3 separate regions of the Homo sapiens genome follow, and regions 2 and 3 are each linked to region 1. The links come from fine-mapping of genetic effects on gene expression. A gene starts in region 1. Each other region holds a variant in brackets. All regions are shown on one strand. Distances are between the middles of the regions.

Region 1 (8,000 bases):
CCAGCGGGGAGCCCACGGCAGGCCCGGCCTCCCACGGACGGCATTCCCGGACGCTGACCGCCTCCAGCTCGACGGCAGGGTCACCGCGGTGCGAGAGCCTTTCCCGCCCTGGACCGCGGGGCTGGCTTTTTTTTTTTCTGTAACAGATTGAGAGAAACACCTTGTGTGTTGCTCTTTATTGAACACATGTATCAAGATAAGGCGCCACATTTAAAAACAAGCAGTAAGTATTGTGGAAACGGAAGACATCACTGCGAGGGGAGGAGGCACTGCACGCCTTGGGGGCGGGGGCCCCAAAACAACGCCGTGGCCGTGGCGGAAGTGCCCTCCCTGTGGGTCCCTGACTCATGGAAAGTCCGAAGCACAGGCTTCCTCAAAGCAGCGATCGCATAGGAAGTGTGGCTCAGTCATGCATGATACACAGACTCTACTGTGAAAGGTTAATGACTGTTTCAAAAGACACAGTGTTTAAGATGTTTAAGTGCACAGAAGGACATATCCAAAATGATTCCACAAAACTGAAATGCAGAAAGCCAGATTCTTCAAGACAAAGACTCCAAATTGTTACCACCAAAGCACCTCACTTCTACGTGGCGCTCTCCTCTTATTACCTCACCTGCAAGAGCTGGAAGGACAAAGAAAGAGGAAGGGGGAAAGGAGGAAGAGATTCTTTCCATTTTTCCCAATGTCAACGTCTGAATGAGGCCACACACCACCACACATTTCAAAGCTATTTAAGAATTTAAATGGCCAATGCCCCTATACCTTAAAAAAAGCTCCCAATCCCCCCAGAAATGTGCTGGCTTTTTTTCTTAGTAAGAGTAGTAGCAGAATTGCTTATGGTATAACTTTAGGGACAATTCTTGTTCTGGGAGTGAGGGGGCAGGGTGTTAACTTAACCCTGAACAACACTGCCTTGTACGTTCCCACCGGATGTAGTAGACAATAATTGCCTGGCTTTTGCAAACGGAAAAATGAGGTTATGAAGGGGAAGACACGGGCCCTGGGTCATGCAGCAAGTCACTGGCAGACTCATGGGCAAATCCAGCGCTCCTGGAGACAAGGCTCAGAGGTGAATGACAGCGAGGGGCCCTCAAATCAACCACAGGGGCACCATCTTGTCTGAGCCTTCAAGACCAGGGACTCAGGCAGGGCAAGTCAGAGCCAAGGTTGGCCATGAATGTGGATTAAAGAAAGAGCCTGAGGGGCTCAGTGGCCCCCTGGCACCAGCGCCGCTCAGGGTCATCCTCCACTTCGCTTCTACAGATGGGCTTTCTGCTGGAGCCCCGGGGTATCAGGCCAGCAGCACAGTTACATGAGACTAACCCCAAACCAGCGCACCCACAGGTCACCCTCAGGGTCTCCAGCCCAGACTGCATCTCTGCTCAAATGCAGGAGGTGCCCTGTCTCCCCAGCTACTTGGGGCACAGATACCCCTCAGGCAGCCAGCCCTGCAGGTGACCTCTGGAGGGGAGAGGAAACGGGGACTTCTTGCTGGAGCCACATCCAGAGAGTCGGGCAGCTGGCATTTGGGCCTCTCTACCCGTCCTCACTGCTGCTGCCCCTGGGAGGGTCAAAGGTTCAGATGATATCCAGGCCCCACGTGGGATTAGCAGCCTAAGCCTCAGCTGAGCCAGGGTTTCACTGGCTTGTTTAAAGTGGAGCACAGAGCCTGACCAAGTTGTGGCATCTCCAAACCTCCTTCTCTCCGAGGGATCCTCCAGGGTGCCTGACCCCCACGCCTGTCGGAAGTGGGGCCGAGTGCCCGCAGGCCGGTGAAGCTGCCTTCTGGGAGACTCAGGGTCTGAGTATCTGGTCTGAGACTCTGGTCTTCCCTCGCCCTCCTGTTCTACTTCCCATGCCTTCTGTAAAGTCCTGCCGTGGCCTGAAGTGTAGCCCTTCCTGGAGTACACAGCGAGCATGCTGTGCCGGCTGTGGGCCCCCCACCCCCGAGCCGCAAAGCCCCAGGCCGCCTCTGCCTGCTGCCTGGAGACCTGGCACTGCCCCACAGGGGCACCCACCTCCAGCCCTCCTGCCCCCGTGACTGAGGAAGCCCAGTGCTTCTCACACTCCTCAGACTCGCTGGCTGAGCCAAGCAGCCTTGGCTGAAGGAAAGAGCAGCAAACTGACCCCCACGGGCCGCGACCTTTCCCCACCCAGGCAAGGCGACCTCAGGCACTTCAGGGAGCGCCAGCTCTGGCTTTCTTGTATGAAAGTGACAGCGGATTTAAACCACATTAACAAAAGAAATCCCTCCTCTCTGGACTACTCAAAGCGGAAGTGCTGCCACATCCTAGCTGCAGCGCTTCTGGGCCAAATATCAAGACAGTGTCTCAGCGATGATCCGCAAACCAAAATAAAGCCGACAGGAAACAGCCCGCTGGTTTAGGGGAGCTGGAATGCCTCCGGCAGCATCAAATGTCATCAACAACTGACACTCAGCCCGTTCCCGGAGGCCTCTTCACACGGGAAGAGGCCGGCTGCGAAGTGCGGCTCAGTGGGGGAGAAGGACCGTGGGGACCGCGACACTGCAGGCCCTGGAAGCCTCTCCAGCCTGAACCGCGCTGTGGTCCAGCACACTCATGGCATGAATATGGAACAGTCACTCCAGGAAACGGTCTTGCTCTGGGGGAGGGGGAGGACTTCCACATCACTCTCCCAAGATAAAACAACCAGGGAAAAGCAGATCCCTCCAGATAAACCAGAAGTCCAGACACAGCCTCCTCTCCGGAAACGCCTCCGGGAGCCCACTTCAGAAGCTGCTGAAGCCCAGAGAAAAACCGCAGCCTCGCAGGCCCTGGTCGCCACCAGCTCGCCCGCCACTTCTCAGTGGAAAGGGACGTGGTGCCGATGGGTCCGGGGTCTCCCCGCCCCGCGGGAGCCCTCAGCCAGAACGCCCCACCAGCACACACGCACACATGCACACACACAAACGCGCGCACACACACGCGCCCACACACAAATACACACGCGCGCACACATGCATCCACACACAAATACGCACCCACACATGCACCCACAAACGCACGCGCACACACACCGCCCACACATGGACACACAAACACAAGCACACACAAACACGCGCGCACGCAGGCACAGACGCGCGCGCACAGCAGCAGCAGCGCGCCGGGGCCTCACGCCCCTGGGGAGAAGCGTGAAGGAGCCTCCACATTCCCCGGAAAGGAAGTTTCTGGGCGCAGCGGAGAAAGGGAGATGCCGAGACCCCGACGTCAGTGGATTTGACACCTGAAGTGCAGGCGCCCAGACAGCCTCAGGCGCGCGCACTCCTGCAAACACGCGGGGCACACGCTCGGGCGCACACGCGGACAGACGTCCCTCGGCGCAGGGACCCCACCTCCTCCGCCGCTACCAGGGACCGGGGCCGCTCCGGGCGCAGAGGAGGCGCAGGGAGCCGCGTTACCCCGGAGCCGACTCGACCCAGCCCGAGGCCCGGGGAGGCGGGGAGGTGGGGAGGGGCCGCGGAGCCGGACCAGCCGTTCTCCGGGGAGCGCGCCGCGCCTGGAGGGCGTCTCCGCCGGGGTCCCCAGCAAGGATCTGCGGAGGGGAGGCGGGCGCGGGAGAGGACAGGGTCGGGCCGGGGGGTCGGACGCGTGGCTGCCGGCGGACACTCACCGATCTTGATCTTCACGCTCTGGAAGACCCGGAGCCCCTCGTCCTCCACCGCCATGCTGCGCGTCCGCGCCCGCCGAGCCTCGCCCCAAGCGCGCGCCGAGCCCGGGCAGCTCAGGCCGAGCAGGAGGAGCGGCGGCGCCGGAGCCCCGAGCGCGGCCGAGGGTCCGCCCGCCTGCAAGACCGCCAGTTGGCCGAGGGCGAGGGCGGGGACCGGGAGGCTCCGCCCGCGGCCCGGCCCCTGCTCCCAACTGGCCCGGGCCCTGCAGGGGCGGGGTTGGCAGGGACGGCGCTGGCGGGTGGCGGAGACCCGGGGGGCGCAGGGATCGGCTTCCCCCGAGGCCTCGGCCCCCGCCCCCGCCCCGCGGATTGGCCGCTGAGCGGAAGGGACCCCAGCGGGCTGCCTGGCGGAAGAGACGAAGGAAGGTCGCCGGCGCGGCCCGGGCCCGCTGAGCGAGGCTGAGCGATTGACTCGCGGACGAACTTTGCCAAGAGAAGTTCACGTACAACGATCTGGCAGGGGAGGAATCCCGCGCCCAGCCCCAGCTCCTGAGATGCGATCCGAAGGCACCTGCTGCAGACGCACGAGGGGGGCGGGGACACATACACGCACACACAGCCCCCCACCCCAGACCTCCGGCATGGGCAGGTCCCCCCCCCAAGTCCCCCTGCAGACCCCAGCATGGGCAGGTCTCCCCCCCCCCAGTCCCCCTGCAGACCCCGGCATGGGCAGGTCTCCCCCCCCCAGTCCCCCTGCAGACCCCGGCATGGGCAGGTCTCCCCCCCCAGTCCCCCTGCAGACCCCGGCATGGGCAGGTCCCCCCCAGTCCCCCTGCAGACCCCGGCATGGGCAGGTCCCCCCCCAGTCCCCCTGCAGACCCCGGCACGGGCAGGTCCCCCCCCAGTCCCCCTGCAGACCCCGGCACCGGCAGGTCTCCCCCACCCAGTCCCCCTGCAGACCCCAGCATGAGCAGGTCCCCCCCCAGTCCCCCTGCAGACCCCAGCATGAGCAGGTCCCCCCCCCAAGTCCCCCTGCAGACCCCAGCATGGGCAGGTCCCCCCCCAGTCCCCTGCAGACCCCGGCATGGGCAGGTCCCCCCCCAGTCCCCCTGCAGACCCCGGCATGGGCAGGTCCCCCCCCCAAGTCCCCCTGCAGACCCCGGCATGGGCAGGTCCCCCCCCAGTTCCCCTGCAGACCCCGGCATGGGCAGGTCCCCCCCCAGTCCCCCTGCAGACCCCGGCATGAGCAGGTCCCCCCCCAGTCCCCCTGCAGACCCCGGCATGAGCAGGTCCCCCCCCCAAGTCCCCCTGCAGACCCCGGCATGGGCAGGTCCCCCCCCAAGTCCCCTTGCAGACCCCAGCATGGGCAGGTCCCCCCCCAAGTCCCCCTGCAGACCCCGGCATGGGCAGGTCCCCCCCCAGTCCCCCTGCAGACCCCAGCATGGGCAGGTACCACCCTTACCTCCCTTTCTTCTGTCTCGAGGTCTCCTCCTCCCTGACCTCCTCTCTGAGGAGTATGTTTGTGTGTGTGTATGAACTGTAGGTGTGTATATGAACTGAGACTACACTCCCTCCTCTATGTTGCAAAACTTCATTGCACCCAGTGCCACACACACACCCTACACATATATACACACATACATATACCACACATACACTACATATACATATACATACACATAGACACCACACACAGACACCACACACATACTACACACGTGTACACACATACATATACACACATATACACACACCCTACATACACACACCACATATACACATGAACACATATGTTCATATACACACAACACAGACAGCACACACATATACTACCCATACACATGCACAGACATACACACTAAACATACATACACACACCTACGTGAACATACACAAACACACACACACTGCATGGAGAGGAACAGGAGCTTCATGAAGATAGAGGCCTATTTTTTTCCACTGCTTACCTTCACTTCCTAAAAAGCAGTTCCATGCGTTGAAAGAATGAATGGCCTTTCTTCCCCTGACTGCTGGGAGCCTGCAGCCACAGGGGCCTCTCTCATCCTCAGCCCTTGCAAGCCTGGTGCTCACTGGGGCAGAACAGGAGGTTAAGGCGGCACCCCTGGTTCCAACCCAGAGCCTCTGCGTCTAGCGCTGGCCCTGGGTGGCGTCTGCAGTGGGTGCTGTGGACGCCATCCACACCCCTGCTTTACGACGGAGACTATGCTTCCGTTTGGAGCCACTGGAAGCAAGCCGGCTCCTGTGTTTCTCCGAGGACCAGTGGAGTCCTCTGTGGCAGCCCAGCCACAAAGCTGCTTCTCTGCCATCCCTCCACCCTCACAGGCCTGCTGATAAACTCAACGCGGATCTCGCTTTGGTGTTTGTTTCCAGGCGACAGCTGGGGTCAGGAGTGAATCTCCAGACTGCAGCAGTGGCAGCCAGGACGGGAGCCCCTTGGAAGGAAATGCACTGGCAGCGGCAGGATCTCGGGTGCTGGAGAGTTCGGGAAAGTCACAGATACATGGACTATGGAATCAGGTGGCTCGTGTTGAGGGCAAGATAATGAAAAGATCACCACCTGAAACAAAAGGGTGGCACGCTAACGGGCCTCCTCAGTGCCACATAAGACACTCATCTCCTGTGACCAGAGGAAAACCAAAACACTGGATCAGGGCCAGGACTTAACCGTGTAGAAGGCAGAGCTCCAGAGAAGGCCAGGTGCTTGGCCTCAGAAGGTGTTGTTCCAGGTTCGGGTGCTCGGCCTCGGAAGGTGCTGTTCCAAGCTCTGGACCCTGACTGGGAAGAAGAGAGGCCCTGACTGGGAAGAAGAGAGGCTTGCGATGGGGCCATCTGAATGAATGCACTCAAAAATCTTGAATCCCAGATTCCTCTAAATCTGCTGGGCCTGAAGAGGTGTCACATTTCTGTCTGTTAAGGACAAATGCTGTTTCTGTGCTTGAAGACACTGCAGAGACCTCTGCAAGGCGACACGCCTGCCACCCACCTCCAGCTCAGCTCCTCCAGGTCAGCATCATCAAGCTGGAGAAGTGCTGAGGCTAAAAACTGAGGAAGAGACAGTCGGCCAAGGAGCTTCAGGACCAAAATGCATGCACCAGCATGAGCCAGGGGTAAATGCAGAACTAGATCCAAAGAACGTTGGATTCAGGGGAGGCAGAATGTAGAGTTAGATGTTAGAATTCATTGACATGGGCGCATTCAGTCATGATACAGGGTTTAGCCCCTGGGAGGTGCTCCGTGCTGCTAGGGTGGCGTTTTCAACTCGTAAAGTAAAGCAATGTCCCACATTAAGCAGCTGTCTGTCAGGATTGGAAAAGGCACTCCTGGGGTCCAGGCTCACTGCACCGGCTGGTGGCCCAGGCCCAGACGTCAGCAGGGCTGGAGCAGGGCTTCTCTGGTGCTCCTGCTGGCGGCTGAGGTGCACAGTCACCCTCACCTCCCGGCAAATGAGCACTCCTCTCCCAGTCATGATGGAGAAAACACGCATCTCCCTGACTCACTCCTTAACCCAGCCGCAAACTTCACTGGGTTAGCCTCGGTCCATTTCACTCCTACATCTCGAAACTGTGGTCGTCTTTACGATACCACAAGAACCTGGGGGGCGGACAGTCCCAGAGAAAAAGTTTGTGCTGCACAAATGGATGCTGGGCATGACCAGAGTGCCCCACAGACGGTCGACTCAGACCCCACGTGCATCTCTCCCCAGTCGGTCCCTAAAACCCACCCTCAGTGCTTATCCAGGCACATCGGAGCAAGGTATCTGTATGTGGGGCCCCCAGCCCTCTGAGAGGCACAGGGGCTGAGCATACATCCAGGGCTCCCGCAACAAAACACAGCCCCGCAGAGCTGCCCAAGCACCGGCCTTCTCACATTTGTGTTCTAAATGAAGGATTTGGTCATTCGTTTTCTAAATTAGAAAGTTGTCTCTTAGAGCTGTGATAATATGAGCTGGGAAATAAAATACTGAGAGAAGAAAGGATCAGATGATGACCCAATAGAAAATCTCTATAATTTCTTCTTTCAATGACCTTGGTGTTACACTTTGCTCTCTTTGGATATACTCTTCTGTTCACATATCAACCCATTGACAAGTGGACATTCATTCATTTCCAAAACAGCATTATTAGATCATGTCTGAACAATCTACTTTCAAAGGATTTGAAGCCACATAAATGACCAGTACACAACGGAATAATTTTTGGAGGGTTCAAAGTAAGAACTGAAGGAAGAACGGTGGAATCAGGTATCTGAACCTGAAAGAGCCCATCCTGCCAGGTGCATCCCAAGGGGCTCACTGGGCCTGAATTCAAAATGGAGGCACGCGACCTTTTGCTCACTAGAGGTCACACGCC
Region 2 (8,000 bases), 56 kb before region 1:
AAACTAAGCAGGAGGAAAATGGGAAGGTGATGTACATGCTCAGGACATAATCTACATACAGAAAAATTCTCTACACGCGGGAAAATAGGATGGTGACGTACACGCTCGGGACACTGTCTACACACAGAAAAATTCTCTACACGCGGGAAAATGGGACAGTGATGTACACGCTCAGGACATTCTCTACACATGGGAAAATGGGACGGTGATATACACACTTGGGACATTGTCTACACATAGAAAAATTCCCTACACGCGGGAAAATGGGACGGTGATGTCCACGCTCGGGACATTGTCTACACACAGAAAAATTCTCTACACGCGGGAAAATGGGACAGTGATGTACACGCTCAGGACATTCTCTACACATGGGAAAATGGGACGGTGATGTACATGCTTGGGACACTGTCTACACACAGAAAAATTCCCTACACGCAGGAAAACGGGACGGTGACGTACACGCTCGGGACATTGTCTACGCACAGAAAAATTCCCTACACGCGGGAAAACGGGACGGTGATGTACACGCTCGGGACATTGTCTACGCACAGAAAAATTCCCTACACATGGGAAAATGGGACGGTGATGTACATGCTTGGGACACTGTCTACACACAGAAAAATTCCCTACACGCGGGAAAATGGGACGGTGACGTACACGCTCGGGACATTGTCTACGCACAGAAAAATTCCCTACACATGGGAAAATGGGACGGTGATGTACATGCTTGGGACACTGTCTACACACAGAAAAATTCCCTACACGCAGGAAAACGGGACGGTGACGTACACGCTCGGGACATTGTCTACGCACAGAAAAATTCCCTACATGCGGGAAAACGGGATGGTGACGTACACGCTCGGGACGTTCTCCACACATGGGAAAATGGGAAGGTGACGTACACCCTTGGGACATTCTCTACACCAAAGAAAACACATCAGTGCCAAGTAAAGCAACAGAAGACATTACCAGAGTGACTTTTCCACAATTTTGGTCCTGAAAACCTCCTCCTGGTCCAGGTTCACCGTGCAGTAGCAATCCCTCATCTTGCTCGGCCCCGGGTAAGAGGGAAGGTTTTTGGCTTCACCTAAAAAGTAAAAGCGACATACATCATCAGCAGCGTAGAAATGTTTGTTCCCTGCTACATCGCAGACACGTTTCCAGCCTTTGCTTGTGTGCATTCACTAGCTCTCTATAAAGCCTTGGTTTTTTTGCCACCACAAGTCAAAATGTGGATGTGCACCCCATGTGTACTGCCGAAAGGCGAGGGACATGCACGCCACCCTCTAATGCAAGTCCCGCAAGCAGGGACCTGCCAGCCTGGGACTCAGGATTGCTGTGTCTTGTTTACCTGCATTAGTCCCTTTATTTTAATTTTTAACATACAATTTTCCATCTCTGACCTGCTCGCGTGCACAGTTCTGTGGCATTAACCACGTTCACCGAGTTGTGCAACCATCACCACCGTCCTCTCTGGAACACTCTCGTCTTCCCAAACGGAGACTCGGTCCCCATTCAACACTCACTCCCATCCCCCTCCTGCTGTCTCCCAGTGGCCCTCACCCCACTTTCTGTCTCTGTGGATCTGACTACTCTGGGGCCTCACGTCGGCGGGATCCACAGGACGTGTCCTTTCAGCCCGGCTCACTCTACTCAGCAAATGTCCTCCAGGGTGGCCCCTGCTGTGGCCGCTGACTGGATTCCCTTCTATTTTAAGGTTGAATAACTTCCATGATGCAAAGGGACCTCGTCTTGCTTATTCATTTATCCACTGAGTCCCTTTTTATTTTGAATTTTATTTTATATTAGGTCAAAGTTGGAGCCAGAATTAAAGGAAAGAGCTCTTTCTTGTGGACGTGAGTTAACTGTAAACTCCAGCTGTTCGAATTGCCAGTAAAGAGAAGCGTCCCAGAGGGACCTAAGCTAGGTCCACCTCTCCCTCCTTCAAGCCCACAGAGACGCCACCTGGACGTGCTTGAAGGAAGTGGGGCCAGTTCCTGGCTGGCCCTGCAGAAAACGCCCGTGATCCCGGACTCCTTGTTTGCCAGGGGTCAGTCTGGAGGTCATAACTGAACCCCAGCTGCGACTTCTCTGCTGGAAGCTCGGAGCATGCCCCAGCGGCAAGCCTAACGGCCCAGTTTACTGGAGAATAGGGAGTGAGCAGGAAGGGATGAGTGACAGCTGTCAATCCAGACAGCGGATGCCCAGTTTAAGTCCATTCTGTAAAAAAAACGCCTCAAACACACTCGCGCCTCCCCAGGGCCTTTTCTGCCTCCGTCATTTGGCTCTAAAGACGCCTGGCAGTGGCGTCTCCACGACGCAGGATGAGAGGACAGATGCAGGCACAGGCACCACGCTGAGACCACACCAAGGCTCCTGCTGGCGCCACTCAGGGCCACATCACCTTATTCTTGTTGAAACAAACAAAATCAAAAACGGGAGCAGAGTAGAAGTTTCTCAGAACCCCACTTCCGCCACTCCGCGCTGAATGTTTCGCGTCAACTCAGCAAGCGCACACGTCATGGCTCACATGGGGCAGTCGGCTCATTTCAAAGATGCCAGTTTGCAAACTGGCATGCCAGCAACTCCAAAGGGCAGAGATAAACTCAGTTTGAAGCTTTTTAAAGACTTTTCATCCACAATATTAACCTGAGGCACTGTGAGAAGGAGCAGAAGCCCCAGGGTCTGGACAACGCCTCCCGTGTCCGCGCCGCGTATCTCTGCGTGTGGAGGCACCGGCAGGACGAAGCCTCCCGTGTCGGCGCCGCGTATCTCTGGGTGTGGAGGCGCCGGCAGGACGAAGCCTCCCGTGTCCGCGCCGCGTATCTCTGCGTGTGGAGGCGCCGGCAGGACGAAGCCTCCCGTGTCCGCACCGCGTATCTCTGCGTGTGGAGGCGCCGGCAGGACGAAGCCTCCCGTGTCCGCACCGCGTATCTCTGCGTGTGGAGGCGCCGGCAGGACGAAGCCGCCCGTGTCGGCGCCGCGTATCTCTGGGTGTGGAGGCGCCGGCAGGACGAAGCCTCCCGTGTCCGCGCCGCGTATCTCTGCGTGTGGAGGCGCCGGCAGGACGAAGCCTCCCGTGTCGGCGCCGCGTATCTCTACGTGTGGAGGCGCCGGCAGGACGAAGCCTCCCGTGTCCGCGCCGCGTATCTCTGCGTGTGGAGGCGCCGGCAGGACGAAGCCTCCCGTGTCGGCGCCGCGTATCTCTGGGTGTGGAGGCGCCGGCAGGACGAAGCCTCCCGTGTCGGCGCCGCGTATCTCTGCGTGTGGAGGCGCCGGCAGGCGTTCCCAGCAGCACCCGCTGCTGCCCACACGGAGCAGCTCTCAGGGTCTCACTGCTTGCGGCCGTTTCCCGCCAGTGCCCCCAACACACAGTCTACCTCTCTGGGCCTCAAAGTCCTGAACTGCAAAAGCAAGAGACACAGCAGCTCTCGAAGGCTCCTCCGGCTCTGAGACGCCTCTAATTCAAAAGGTTCTGGAAATTTTTATTTTGGGAATCATTAAGGAAGCATCAATGATAATCGGTTGGTGGGAAAAAATGAGTATTTCCTGATAGGCACTGGACCCTCAGAACACCTCAACACGGCGACTCTCCCGGGATGCGCCTTCTTCACCCGCTGCATGGGAGAACACAGCTAGGCTGCTACGAGGCACCTGGCTCCAGGCCAGGCCTCAGGTCGGTCATCCCATGTCAGAAGACAGG[C/CT]TTTCCGAAGGCTCCCACCGATGTGAAGATCCCACACGCAGCACACGCACACACGCAGCGCACACACGCAGCACACGCACGCAGGCAGCACCGCACACACACGCAGCACACGCAGGCAGCACACGCACACACACGCGGCACACGCAGGCAGGGTGTGTGATGAGTTCACAGGCACGAAGGGGAGAACATGGCCGGCGAGCTTCTCCAGAGAGGGAAGGGAGCCTGGGGGATGGCAGTTGAGGTTCCCGGAGCAGACGCAGCCTTCCTGGTGGCCGCGGCTGCCCCTGAATTTGAGGGCAGCCGCAGCACACCCAGCAAGTCGGACAGGGGCCCCTCCAGCCTCCCGGCCCTGTTTTGGAACTGACGGCTTCTGCAGCAGATAGAAGTCCTTACCCTCAAACACAGCTTGACTTTGCTGACTTTCCTTCTGACACCTTTACAGTGTGACCTGACGCTGACCATATTTCCCTTGGGATTTTACTGGGTTTTTTGTTTTTGTCTTTGGGAGTTTTTTGTTTTTGTTTTGTTTTCTGGGATTTCTTTGTTTTTTGCAACAAATGAGTGTAGATATTTAGCTGTAAGTTCCTGTGTTTCTTAAAAGGAGAGAGAAAAAAGCTTTTGAAAGTCCTGTGGGAGATGGTGTTTGTGGATAATACGGAACTGAGATTTGTTCCCACAGGGCCTCAAATCACAGCAGTAACAGCTGGGTCTTCCGAAGGCGGACACTGCAGGACGGAAACACACAAGCTTTCTGTGGAGTCCCTGTAAGACAGACGCCGTACGACATGAAAAGGCCGGATCCCCCTGCGCTGGCGCCAACACACCAGATTCATCCCTCCCTGCCTGATGATGCCCAGTCCCACCGCACTGGCACCAACGCACCAGGTTCCTCCATCCCTGCCTGACGATGCCCAGTCCTACCGCACTGGCACCAACGCACCCAATTCATCCCTCCGTCCCTGCCTGACGATGCCCAGTCCCCCCACACTGGCACCAACACACCGGATTCATCCCTTCCTCCCTCCCCACTCAATGATGCCCAGTCCCCCCACACTGGCACCAACGCACCGGATTCATCCCTCCCTCCCTGCCCGACGATGCCCAGTCCCACCGCACTGGCACCAATGCACCGGATTCATCCTTCCTCCCTGCCCGACAATGCCCAGTCCCCCCACACTGGCACCAACGCACCGGATTCATCCCTCCCTCCCTCCCTGCCCAACGATGCCCAGTTCCCCCGCACTGGCACCAAGGCACCGGGTTCCTCCCTCCCTGCCCGATGATGCCCAGTCCCCTGGCCCCAAAACACACCAGGTTCCTCCCTCCCCGCCCGATGGCCCCGTCTTTACCTCCTTCTCCTTGCTCACTGTCATCTGGGGCTGAGACTCTTTCTTTTTAATCTACTTTTGCTATGATGCATTTAATAAAAAAAAAAGTGGGGGGACAAAATGCAAGCCCATTTCCCTGCCTCAGGCTTCTGATGCCATCACCTCCAAGGCACTGGTTTTGTTTCCAACTGTTAATAAAGCATTGAAACAGAAAAAAAAAAAAAAAACTCCTGAGAAACATCCTGGTTGCTATGACGACAGCAACACCAGGGAGCCTGCTGGACGCACCAACATCCAATGAGCTGCTCAGACCAGGAGGGCTGGGGCTGCTGCAGCACGGCCTGGCCACGTCGCCCCGGGGCCTCGCCGTGTGTGCCACATGCACCAGGACCGAGCCTCTCCCTGCAGCCCCACAGCTGAGCGGGACGGGGGCTGCCCCAGCTCCCAAGCAACTGTTTCTTCTCCACCGCACCCCAAACAGTTCATTCAGTTACCTTCACCAAAGGTGCCTGTTCTGTCTCTCTTAGAGGAAACACGTTTTCTCTTTTTTTTCTGGTGCACAGAGACGTTCATATAAAAAGACAAAGCTGTCTGTGGTATACAGTAAGTACCTAATTATCTGTTGCATGCATGGATGAATAAATGAATTAAAAGAAAAGTAAACTGGTTTCATCCTAACAGCCAAATAAGTAACAGTTCTCATGACCACTTTTCCCACAGACCATGCCTCTAAAACATATGCGGTGTGTTCACCAGCCGGCAGACTGATGAAGACAGCCAACACAGCACCTCGCATCGGCTCTGAAAACTCAACTAACAGGAGTAAAAGGCAGCACTTAAACACATTTAATGTAAACAGCATAACACCGCAAAACCTGATTTCCAACTCCAGGGATCAGGCAGTGAGTAACAAAAACAAAGGCCCTGATCCAAAGCGTCATGACTCCCACGCCCACGGCAGCCCTTCTGGGCCATGGAGGGAAGCTGCACCCTCAGGGTGAGCACAGGCCCAGCCCTGACCGAGGGTTAGGATGCCCAGGCTTCCCTGGAGGCCCACACAGGGTCTCCAAGTGCTGACAGCGAGCTGTCGGGGCTGCCCGCAGCACCCGGAGCCACACCCCTGTACCCAGGAGGAGCTGTGAGGGCATGGGGAGGTCTCCACAGACCCCACCCAGCACTGCTCCTCCCTGCAGGCATCCTGGGGAGGGCCCTCAGGCGGGGCTGGCCTCATGTACTGCTCAACACAGCAGCGGGCGTCTCCCAGGCGCTCAGCAGCTCAGCTCAGCGCCCAGTGAAGAGGGCGGAGGAAGGAATGAAGGCAGCCACGGGTGAGGACGAGGGCCCAGGGCTCCACTGAGCAAAGCTCCTGGCACCAACCCAGACAGAAGACGTCCTGGAGAGGCCAGGGCTGTGCTGGTACTGGCCGCGTCCACCCAGGCTGGGCGCTCTTCTCTTTCCCACGTCATCACGGCGTTTTACTCAACTACAGGTCGGCCTCACTGAAATAACGTGGAACAGGTGATGGCGACAGCCCCGGTGCATGGTCCAGCGAAAGCAACCCCGTCCCAGCAATAAAGCCCAGGGCCTGTTGGGGAAGGAGACCCTGCGGGAGAATTGGAGGAAGTGCGGCTCTCAAGGCTCCCAACCTCAGCCTTTTAGTCGTCCCAACGCAAAACATTCAAAGGGGCCTAAAAATTTTGCTAGGCACACAGCGTCTTCTAACAACATAAAGTATTTACCGGAACAATAGTCTTGTGACTAAAATATCTGAATAAAGGATGAAGAGCCCCGTCTACTTTGGGCTATTTAGAAGCCTGGAACAGCGATCCCAGCCCTGGCCCCTGGGATCCTCACTCGAACAGGTCCTCCTCCAGGCCCTGGCAGGGTCTCAGTGAGGCACAGAAGCCTCTGTGCCATGCGTGGGTAGAGACCCCTCTCCGGGCTCTGAGCTGCTGACTGCAAGGCCCATGTGCCCCCTGGCTCCTGTTCGCCTCTGGACACGGGGGCTCCGTGACTGGCCTCTGAGTGGGCCTGAGTGCCCGTCCGCACTGGCCTCCCCACCCGGCACCCTCCGTGGGACGAGGCTGCACATCTCGGTGGGCTGACTGCGGTGCAGAGGCCATAAGAGGAAGAGGCGGGGGGGCCCCGAGGCAGGGGACACAGCGTCTTGAGGACACAGCATGACCCTGACCCCCACGACCCCTGGCAACACAAGTGCCTTCCCGAAGGGCCTGCGAAGCTGCCAGAAATAGGCAGAACTCGGCGAGGCCGTGGGAGTGGGGTTTCCTCTGGGCCGAGTCGAGGGCAGACGGCACCTGCTCTATCCTCACGCTCAGGAGGGGCAGAGGCCGCTGGGCTTGGATGGAGCCAGGCCCAGGTCTTGTCCAGGGCTCTCCAGGGCACCATGCTCCTCCCTCAAGAGGACTCCTGTGGGTTATGAATGACAGAAGCCCAGGCTGCCATCCTCAAGCAAGGCACCCCCCAATCCTCCTGGCCGGGAGGGGCTGCTGGGAGCCCCTGGCACCAGCGGGCTTCTGTGGGCGGTGGAAGGAGGAGAGGGCTGTGCGGGCTGATTCCAAAACTCACTGGGTGACACCACCTGCCCAGGGAGGGCCCAGCACTGCCGTCCAGGGGGTCTGCCTGTCGTCCAGTCTCCTTGAGAGCACCTCCAGCTCCCTCCAGTCTCCACGGCTCTTCAGAGGGCACGGGAGGTTCTGCTGAGGGGCGGGTGACCAGGCCCAGATGTTAAACCCTCCCAAATAACGGGCATATTCAATGTAATTGAAACTTCCACCACAGGGAGAATGAGTCTATGGTGACGGGGTGGCAGGAGGGGTCCTAGAAGGCGCCCACTGTGCTTACTGGAGGCCTGACCCCGACAACGGCTGAAACAGGGGTCTCCCCCAGGGGCCACTGAAACAGGGGTCTCCCCCAGGGGCCACCTCCCAGGGCACGCTTGGATTTCACTA
Region 3 (8,000 bases), 98 kb before region 1:
ATCTGCTTGTATGTGTCCACCTGTGTGCATGTTCGCCTGTGTGTGCATGCAGCTGTGTGTGTCTGCCTGTCTGTGCATGTGGCTATGTGTCTGTGTGGGCGTGCGATTGTGTGTGCGTGTCCGTCTGTGTGCACACGGCTGTGTGTCTGCCTGTGTTTGCATGAAACTGTGTGTGTCTGCCTGTCGGTGTCTGCCTGTCTGTATGTGCATCTGCCTGTCTGTGTGTTTGGCTGTGTGTGTCCTTCTGTGTGTGTGTGCGACTATGTGTGCATGTCTGTCTGTGTGCAAGCAGCTGTGTGTGCATCTGCCTGTATGTGCATGCAACTCTGTGTGTGTCTACCTGTCTGTAGTGTGTGGCTGTGTGCATGTCCTTCTGTGTGTGTGCGCGACTGTGTCTGCCTGTCTGTGCGCGTGGCTGTGTGTCCACCTGTGTATGTGTGTTTGTCCGCCTGTCTGTACATGCGACTGTGTGTGCATGTCTGCCTGTGTGTGCACCGCCTGTGTGTATGTGTGACTGTGTCCACCTGTGTGTGTGTGCGGCTATGTGTGCCTACCTGTGTGTGCCGCTGTCCCTGTATTTGCTCCAGCCTGAATGGCAATGAATGGATGGGATAAACACAGACTCATCCATGCTTCAGGGGCTCTGCCTGGCCCGGCCCTTAGCTCTAGCTCCTGAGGCTCCGGGAAGGCCAAGGCGTGTTCCCCAGGGCTTGTCCCTGCCTGTGGGAGGGTGGGACAGACGGGCAGAATGCCTGGCGCTAAGACGTGGACGGCAGAACCGACAGCAGCCCTGCAGCACGTGGCCTGGTGCAGAACCTCGGATGGAGCAGGGACCTCGCTTAGGCCCCACCCACCTAAATGATTAAAAAACCTTCGAGTTCCTTCAAAAATATATCAGACACCTAGCCAGCCTTGAGTGGTAAATCACCTAACAAGCAAAATAAATAATAAAATAATAGCCAAAAAATTAGTCAGGAGATATTTATTCCCTATACAAGTTAAAAATAGCATCTTAACATATGTCCCTAAATTGTTTTTCAAAAACCGAGACCCTCACCAAACAGATCTACCAACACAGACCACAAATGCAGGGGGGATCACAGGCCCGAACCCTGAACCCGGCTCTATTCTGAATTTCTTCCTCAGGGGCCAGGAGGGGTCATGCCTGTGGGCCAGAGCCAACATTCTTTTCTGCTGATCTCAATTGTTTGGACAAAGCTTCTCCTCCTTAACCAATCACAAATCAAAAACGCTCTATATCCGACCCATGGGCCACACGTCGTGATGTCTGCCTTCTCAGGTCAAACTGACATACGGCCTCCATGTACTGATTTATGACTTTGCCACAACCTCAGCCTCCCCACCTTCTGAAACCCTTGCCTGTGAACCCTCGGGGTGCCTGGGTCGTGGGCGCAGCCTGCCCTGCCAGGGTGCACACCCCGAAGCCCCTGGTCAGGGAGTGGAACATAAAGCCCTTCAGCCCTCACTTGACACCGCGTCGGTGCAGCCCCACGGCACCCCCACACTTGATACTATGCCCCACGGCACCCCCACACTTGGCACCACGTTCCACGGCACCCCCACACTGACAACACGTCCCACGGCACCCCTACACTTGACACCACGTTCCATGGCACCCCCACACTGACACCACGCCCCACGGCACCCCCACACTGACACCACGCCCCACGGCACCCCCACACTGACACCACGCCCCACGGCACCCCCACACTTGATACCACGTTCCACGGCACCCCCACACTGACACCACACCCCACAGCACCCCCACACTTGATACCATGCCCCACAGCACCCCCACACTTGACACCACGTTCCACGGCACCCCCACACTGACACCACACCCCAAAGCACCCCCACACTTGATACCATGTTCCACGGCACCCCCACACTTGATACCACGTTCCACGGCACCCCCACACTGACACCACACCCCACAGCACCCCCACACTTGATACCATGCCCCACAGCACCCCCACACTTGACACCACGTTCCACGGAACCCCCGCACTGACACCACACCCCACGGCACCCCCACACTGACACCACGCCCCACGGCACCCCCACACTGACACCACGCCCCACAGCACCCCCACACTTGACACCACGTTCCACGGCACCCCCACACTTGACACCACGTTCCATGGCACCCCCACACTGACAACACGCCCCACGGCACCCCCACACTTGATACCACGTTCCACGGCACCCCCACACTGACACCACACCCCACAGCACCCCTACACTTGACACCACGTTCCATGGCACCCCCACACTTCATACCATGTTCCACGGCACCCCCACACTGACACCACGCCCCACGGCACCCCCACACTGACACCACGCCCCACGGCACCCCCACACTGACACCACGCCCCACGGCACCCCCACACTGACACCACGCCCCACGGCACCCCCGCACTGACACCACGTTCCACGGCACCCCACACTTCATACCACGTTCCACGGCACCCCCACACTTGACACCACGCCCCACGGAACCCCCACACTTGACACCACGTTCCACGGCACCCCCACACTGACACCACGCCCCACGGCACCCCCACACTTGACCCAGCGCTCACAGGGGGAATGGAACTGGGTCTGTGCTGCCCAGGCAGGTGTGGGAGGTGGGGCCTCCGCTGCTGTCCTGAGACTCTGGGGTCTGGAGGTTGGGTGTGGCCTTCCCGCCCTGTGGCTGCAGCCCCAGAGCAGGTCCTGAGGGGCCACAAGGATGTTGGGCCGGGAAGGTGGGCATGAACCCCACGCCAGCACTGTGGGCGGGGAAAACAGGTGCCTAAAATGACAACAAAGACCCCACCAAGACCACAGCTCCTCTTCCCACACCCATCAGAGCTCAGGGCTGAGCGGAGTATCGCCTGTGGTCCTCACCGCCTGGCAGCGGGCCTGCTATCCGTGGCTATCCATGGGCTAAAGGAGTGCCCTGAACACCAGCCGGGCAGTGGGCCTGCTATCCGTGGCTATCCACGGGCTAAAGGAGTGCCCTGAACACCAGCCGGGCACTGGGCCTGCTATCCGTGGCTATCCACGGGCTAAAGGAGTGGCCTGACCACCAAAGACAGGAGAAAGTGCCTGACCCAAGAATAACCAAGAATCCCCACTGCTTCATCCCCGTTCTCAAATGCCGGGCGCAAACTCTCTCAGGACAGAAGCGTTCAGATTTGCAAGGCTGTGCAGACGGAGGTAGCTCTATTCACATTCGGGAGCTTCAGGAAGAGTCACGACTGCATGTGGGGGGTCCTGGTCCCCAGCAGCAGGCTGTGTGGCCCCCGTGTGCTCTCCCGGCCCCTGGCAGCAGGCTGTGCGGCCCCCGTGTGCTCTCCCGGCTCCTGGCCGGGTCCAGGGGCACCTGGCTGGTCACCATCAGGTCCTGAGGCTGCTCCTGTTCCTGCAGCATGAATCCCTCCTGACCAGCTGACTTGTGTGCTTTCGTCTTCTGCTGATTCAGGAGTGGGAACAAACAAAACCCACCCCTGGAAGGCCCTTTCTCCTGCCAGAAAAGCCAATGAGTAAATCTGCAGGTGCTGGCGCAGGCTGGAGAATCCCAGACATTTAGAGGTTAAACAACACAGTTCTAAATAACACACAGATCAGAGAACGCAAGACAAATTTTAAAATGTTCCGGAATAAACAGAAATGAAAGTGTTACTCATCAAAATCAGTGGGATGAAGCGGGAGCCGTGCTCGGGGTGGAGGGGAATCTGGAGTGCCGGCCACACAGACTAGAGCAGAAGGGAGATCTGAACGCTGACCTGAGCTTAGAGCAGAAGGGAGATCTGAACGCTGACCTGAGCTTAGAGCAGAAGGGAGATCTGAACGCTGACCTGAGCTTAGAGCAGAAGGGAGAGCTGAACGCTGACCTGAGCTTAGAGCAGAAGGGAGATCTGAACGCTGACCTGAGCTTAGAGCAGAAGGGAGATCTGAACGCTGACCTGAGCTTAGAGCTGGGAGACTGAGAAAAATGAGTAAACTAAACCCAGAGCCCAAGAACAGAAAACAGAAGTCAGATCGGAAACCAATAGGTAAAAATCAAAGCCAACGGCAAATTCCTTGAGAGATCAATAAAATTAATAAACCTCAAACCAGGCTACTAAGAGCAAAAGGGAAAAGGCACAAATTCCCACAGGAAAGGAACGAGAGGACCTGGCTGCCGACCCTGGCACCTGCCTGGACGCTGCACTGAGGTCCCTGGCGCTGCACTCCTGCGAACTCACAGACGCAGCAAAGGGGCCCCAGCGTCCAGCTCCTGACAACGTGTGGCTGCAGTGTCACCCATGGGGCCCTGGGCGGGGGCTGCTGAGGGGTGTATGGAAACTCTGTACTCTGCTCAATTTCCCTGTGAACACAGAACTGCCCCCAAAACAGAGTTAATTAATTTTTAAAAAGCAGCCAATGGTCCCTATCCATCTTTCTCAGGAAGG[C/T]CTTCCCCAGGGAGAGAGCAGCGCGCAGAGCCGGGTCAGGGTCCTGGCCCCACCCACCGGTTGCCGTGTCCCCCACTGAGCGGGCAGCGGCCCAGAGAGCAGCCAGGACAGAGGTGCCTTGGATGCAGGACTGTTCCACGCCGGCCGCAGAGAGGAGACGAAGTCCGCGGGCAGATGAGACAGGATGCAGAGGCCATGAGGAAGGAAGCCCAGCCTCGGCCGTCTCCTCTTACAACCCTGGAGAGATGTGAAAGCTTGACGACGGACGGTGACTTTGTTTGCTCCGAAAATCCTTCCAAGAGGACTGTCTGCTGCACAAACACAAAATTCCCAGAGGCTGTAGCAGGAGGCTGGAATTTCCAGCCCAGTGAGATTTCACGGTGCAACTGGAAGGCTCCAAGGGGGAAACACGTAGGTGTCTCTTGGGCGGATGGCAGACCCAGGGGTTTGCTGTGATCCCCTGCAGGGCTGTGCTATTTTCTGAATACGTCACAGATGCACTTGAAAGCCTGGTTTATAAACGGAGCTCAGTGACCCCCAGGCGCCCAGATCACCGCGGATGCCTCGCTGTCACAGGCGGTGCCCTCGCTGGCATCTGACGCTGGCATCTCCCCCACTGGCATCTGACGCTGGCGTCTCCCCCGCTGGCCCTGCATCAGGGGAGGGTCAGAGAGCACAACTCTGCATAATAAAGTGATTTAACAAAGACTTTCCAACAGTGGCCGTTCCAGAAGGAAGCAAGAAAGGTTTAATTGTGTTTCCCCCATTTCTGTGACTCACTTGCTGGCCTCCCCCATGGGCTGCTTCTGTGACACTCGCTGTCCGGACACAGGACTGTTCCTGGGAATCACAGAGCGGAGGGACTCATGGAGCCACATGGCTACCCCCTGCCTTCCTGAAAATGGTCACTGTGACATCTTATGATGAAACGGCGGCTCCTGAGACTGGAGTTGTGGGGTTTTTTTTCTTCTTCTTCTTCTTTTTTTGAGATGGAGTTTCACTCTTGTTGCCCAGGCTGGAGTGCAATGGCGCGATCTCAGCTCACAGCAACCTCCGCCTCCCGGGTTCAAGCGATTCTCCTGCCTCAACCTCCGGAGTAGCTGGGATTACAGGCATGCGCCACCACGCCCGGCTAATTTTGTATTTTCAGTAGAGACGGGGTTTCACCATGTTGGTCAGGCTGGTCTCAAACACCTGACCTCAGGTGATCCACCCGCCTCGGCCTCCCAAAGTGCTGGAATTACAAGCATGAGCCACCGCGCCCAGCCTGGAGTTGAGGTTTTAAAGGTTGGCTGGAGTCCAGCAGGGCCACTGCTCCCTGTCACGCTACGTTTTGGGCGGCGTTGGGGCTGACTGCATCAGTGAAGCAACGCATTGGAGAGCAGCGGGCATTGGAGAGCAATGACCTTGCCTCCTCCCTTTTAGACAACAGCTCGCATTTGCCTTCCATAAAGTGCAAATTCCCGGGAGACTGACACCACTCGGTTCAGGATCCTCATGTTCCGGACAGTGAGAGTCAGGCTTGGAGGACGCTGGGCTTGGCCACGGGTACGCAGCCTCGGGCGTTAATTATGAGATTCCACCAGCTGTGAGATCAACCTGCGGCATTCTTATTTACAGCTTTGTGGAGATGCAACGTCTGAGTCCTGATCGTCATGGTGGTTACACTATCTACCCTGTGATGAAGTTGCACCGACTGTCACAACAGCCCATCGGCAGGTGACTGGAGCAACAGCACACGCTTCGCACCTCGGACCATTCCTCAGCCTTGGAAGGAAGGAGGTTCTGATACCACAAGCGACCCGGAGGATGTCACGCAGAGCGACATTAGCCTCAGAAAGACCAGCAGGGTAGAGCTCACTCCCATGAGCCACGGGGAGTGGCCTGCGTCAGAGACAGAGTGCCATGGGGCTGCCGGTGGGGAAGGGGCGGACGGGAGCGTGTGAATAAAACTCTAGCCAGGGGACAGAGGGGACGGAGGTTCCGTTTTGCAAGATGAAAGGAGCTCTAGAGATGGGTGGTGGTGACGGTTATACAATATTATGAATATATTCAATGCTATACCACTGAATTGGACATTTTAAATGGTTAAAATGGTAAATTTCATGTCTCTGTTTTACCACATAAAAAACTGGAAAAAATAGCATAGAATACACAGAGAGACACACACAGAAACACGTGCCTGTGAACTGGTGAAATCTGGATAACATCCGTGGACTGCACAAACGTCGGCGTCCTGGTTGACGTTGCACCAGCTGCGCATGGCAGTGCCTGGGGAAGCCGGGAGAAGGGAGCACAGCCTTCTGTTTGGGGAAGCCAGGAGAAGGGAGCACGGCCGTCCGTTCGGGGGAGCCGGGAGAAGGGAGCACGGCCTTCCGTTCGGGGGAGCCGGGAGAAGGGAGCACGGCCTTCCGTTTTCAGGGAAAGGTGGGAATTCGCCCCTCGCCACTCCTGTGTACTGTTTTGATGCCTTCCTATAGATCTATAACCATTTCAAAATTAAATCAGTAAAAAAAAAAAAAAGGCAAGAAAGAGGAAAAGCTACACCTGCCAATAAAACCAAACTTGAATCCGAGGCAAACGACGAGGCCGCACTCTGCCAGCTGCTCAGAGGCCGTTGTGACGGAGACCCCAGCGACGGCGGGTATCCCAGAATAGAAGAGCTGGGGAACTCGCCGACACGCAGGCGGGAGCGGCCCAGTCACCAAGCCCCGTCTCCCGGGCAGCACGTGGGAAACCCCGCCTTTCTGCCGGGACGCCAAGGTCCGTGGGAGCAGCACGCTGGGGCCCTTGTGCTCCGGGGATGCGAGGACAGTCATTAGTTCTGCAGTAATCACAGCGTCCTTCACTTTCCACAGCACGTGTGGGTTCCCCAGCCAGTGCTTTCCCAGGAAGCAGAGTTAATTAAGTGTGACGCACAATTAGCACAGGTCCCTTGGGGCAGGGCCATCCCCAGGGCTTCTTGGCTCCACTCCTTAATTTCCGTCAAGGGCCTCACCCCACCCCCACAGCTGGGCTCATGGTCAACTTCATGAATGAACCCTTTGCTGGCCATGGGCGTGTGCACAGCTCATGACCTTGGCAAATGGCAACCTTGACCCAGTGAAGCGCAGAGGATGAGGGTTGCCAGGGCAAGACGGTTCCCAGAGGACGAGGGTTCCCAGAGGACGAGGGTTCCCGAGGGATGAGGGTTCCAGGAGGATGAGGGTTGCCGGGGGACAAGGGTTCCCAGAGGACACCAGGCCATCCAGTCCCCCAGCCCAAATTTGCCCTGAACTTGCGGGCACAGAGCCTCCATCCGACCCACCCAGTTGCCTCTGCTGAAGTCTCAGGCGAAGTCCTCACAAGGAACCTATTTTGGGGATTTGTCCAGGATGCCAGCCTCCAGGTGTAAAAATAACCATCACAGCCACCAATTTACGATGCGCCAGGTGCCTTCGAGTGGCACACACGCCATACCAGCACGCTTCACAAACCCACCCAGATGGGAAAACTGAGGCCTGCAAAGGACGTTGGCAACAATCCGATGAGGGAGCTGGC

Direction of the effects. Positions count from the first base shown, and alleles are read on the strand shown. Sizes are in standard deviations (SD) of each study's normalised expression. Not every link is listed here.
With allele T in place of C in region 3, the expression in tibial nerve of the gene that starts at base 3,822 in region 1 is lower (small effect, 0.28 SD a copy in GTEx).

What was found. PIP is the estimated chance that this variant, and not a neighbour inherited with it, causes the effect.
Region 2: its variant is fine-mapped to the expression of RASA3 in testis (GTEx, PIP 0.97).
Region 3: its variant is fine-mapped to the expression of RASA3 in tibial nerve (GTEx, PIP 0.95).

The regions. Positions count from the first base shown.
Region 1 is chr13:114,128,802-114,136,801 of GRCh38, forward strand. RASA3 (RAS p21 protein activator 3) reads right to left here and starts at 3,822. Exons shown (of 24, transcript NM_007368.4): 1 at 3,634-3,822. The coding sequence starts at 3,688. It overlaps LOC107987192 (a long non-coding RNA gene), which reads right to left and starts at 2,202. Exons shown (of 2, transcript XR_001750050.2): 1 at 1-2,202. RefSeq lists enhancers at 1,030-1,659, 1,698-1,957, 2,248-2,747, 2,918-3,545, 5,834-6,013 and 1 more and silencers at 3,338-3,997, 4,028-4,127.
Region 2 is chr13:114,072,751-114,080,750 of GRCh38, forward strand. RASA3 (RAS p21 protein activator 3) reads right to left here. Exons shown (of 24, transcript NM_007368.4): 2 at 970-1,087. Among named protein-coding and RNA genes, the nearest start is that of RASA3-IT1, 33 kb to the right of the region's middle. RefSeq lists an enhancer at 341-1,540. The variant C/CT (reference allele first, on the strand shown) is at 3,704.
Region 3 is chr13:114,031,109-114,039,108 of GRCh38, forward strand. The region is part of intron 4 of RASA3 (RAS p21 protein activator 3); the gene reads right to left. Among named protein-coding and RNA genes, the nearest start is that of C13orf46, 61 kb to the left of the region's middle. RefSeq lists enhancers at 83-1,024, 4,583-5,151, 5,082-6,281. The variant C/T (reference allele first, on the strand shown) is at 4,461.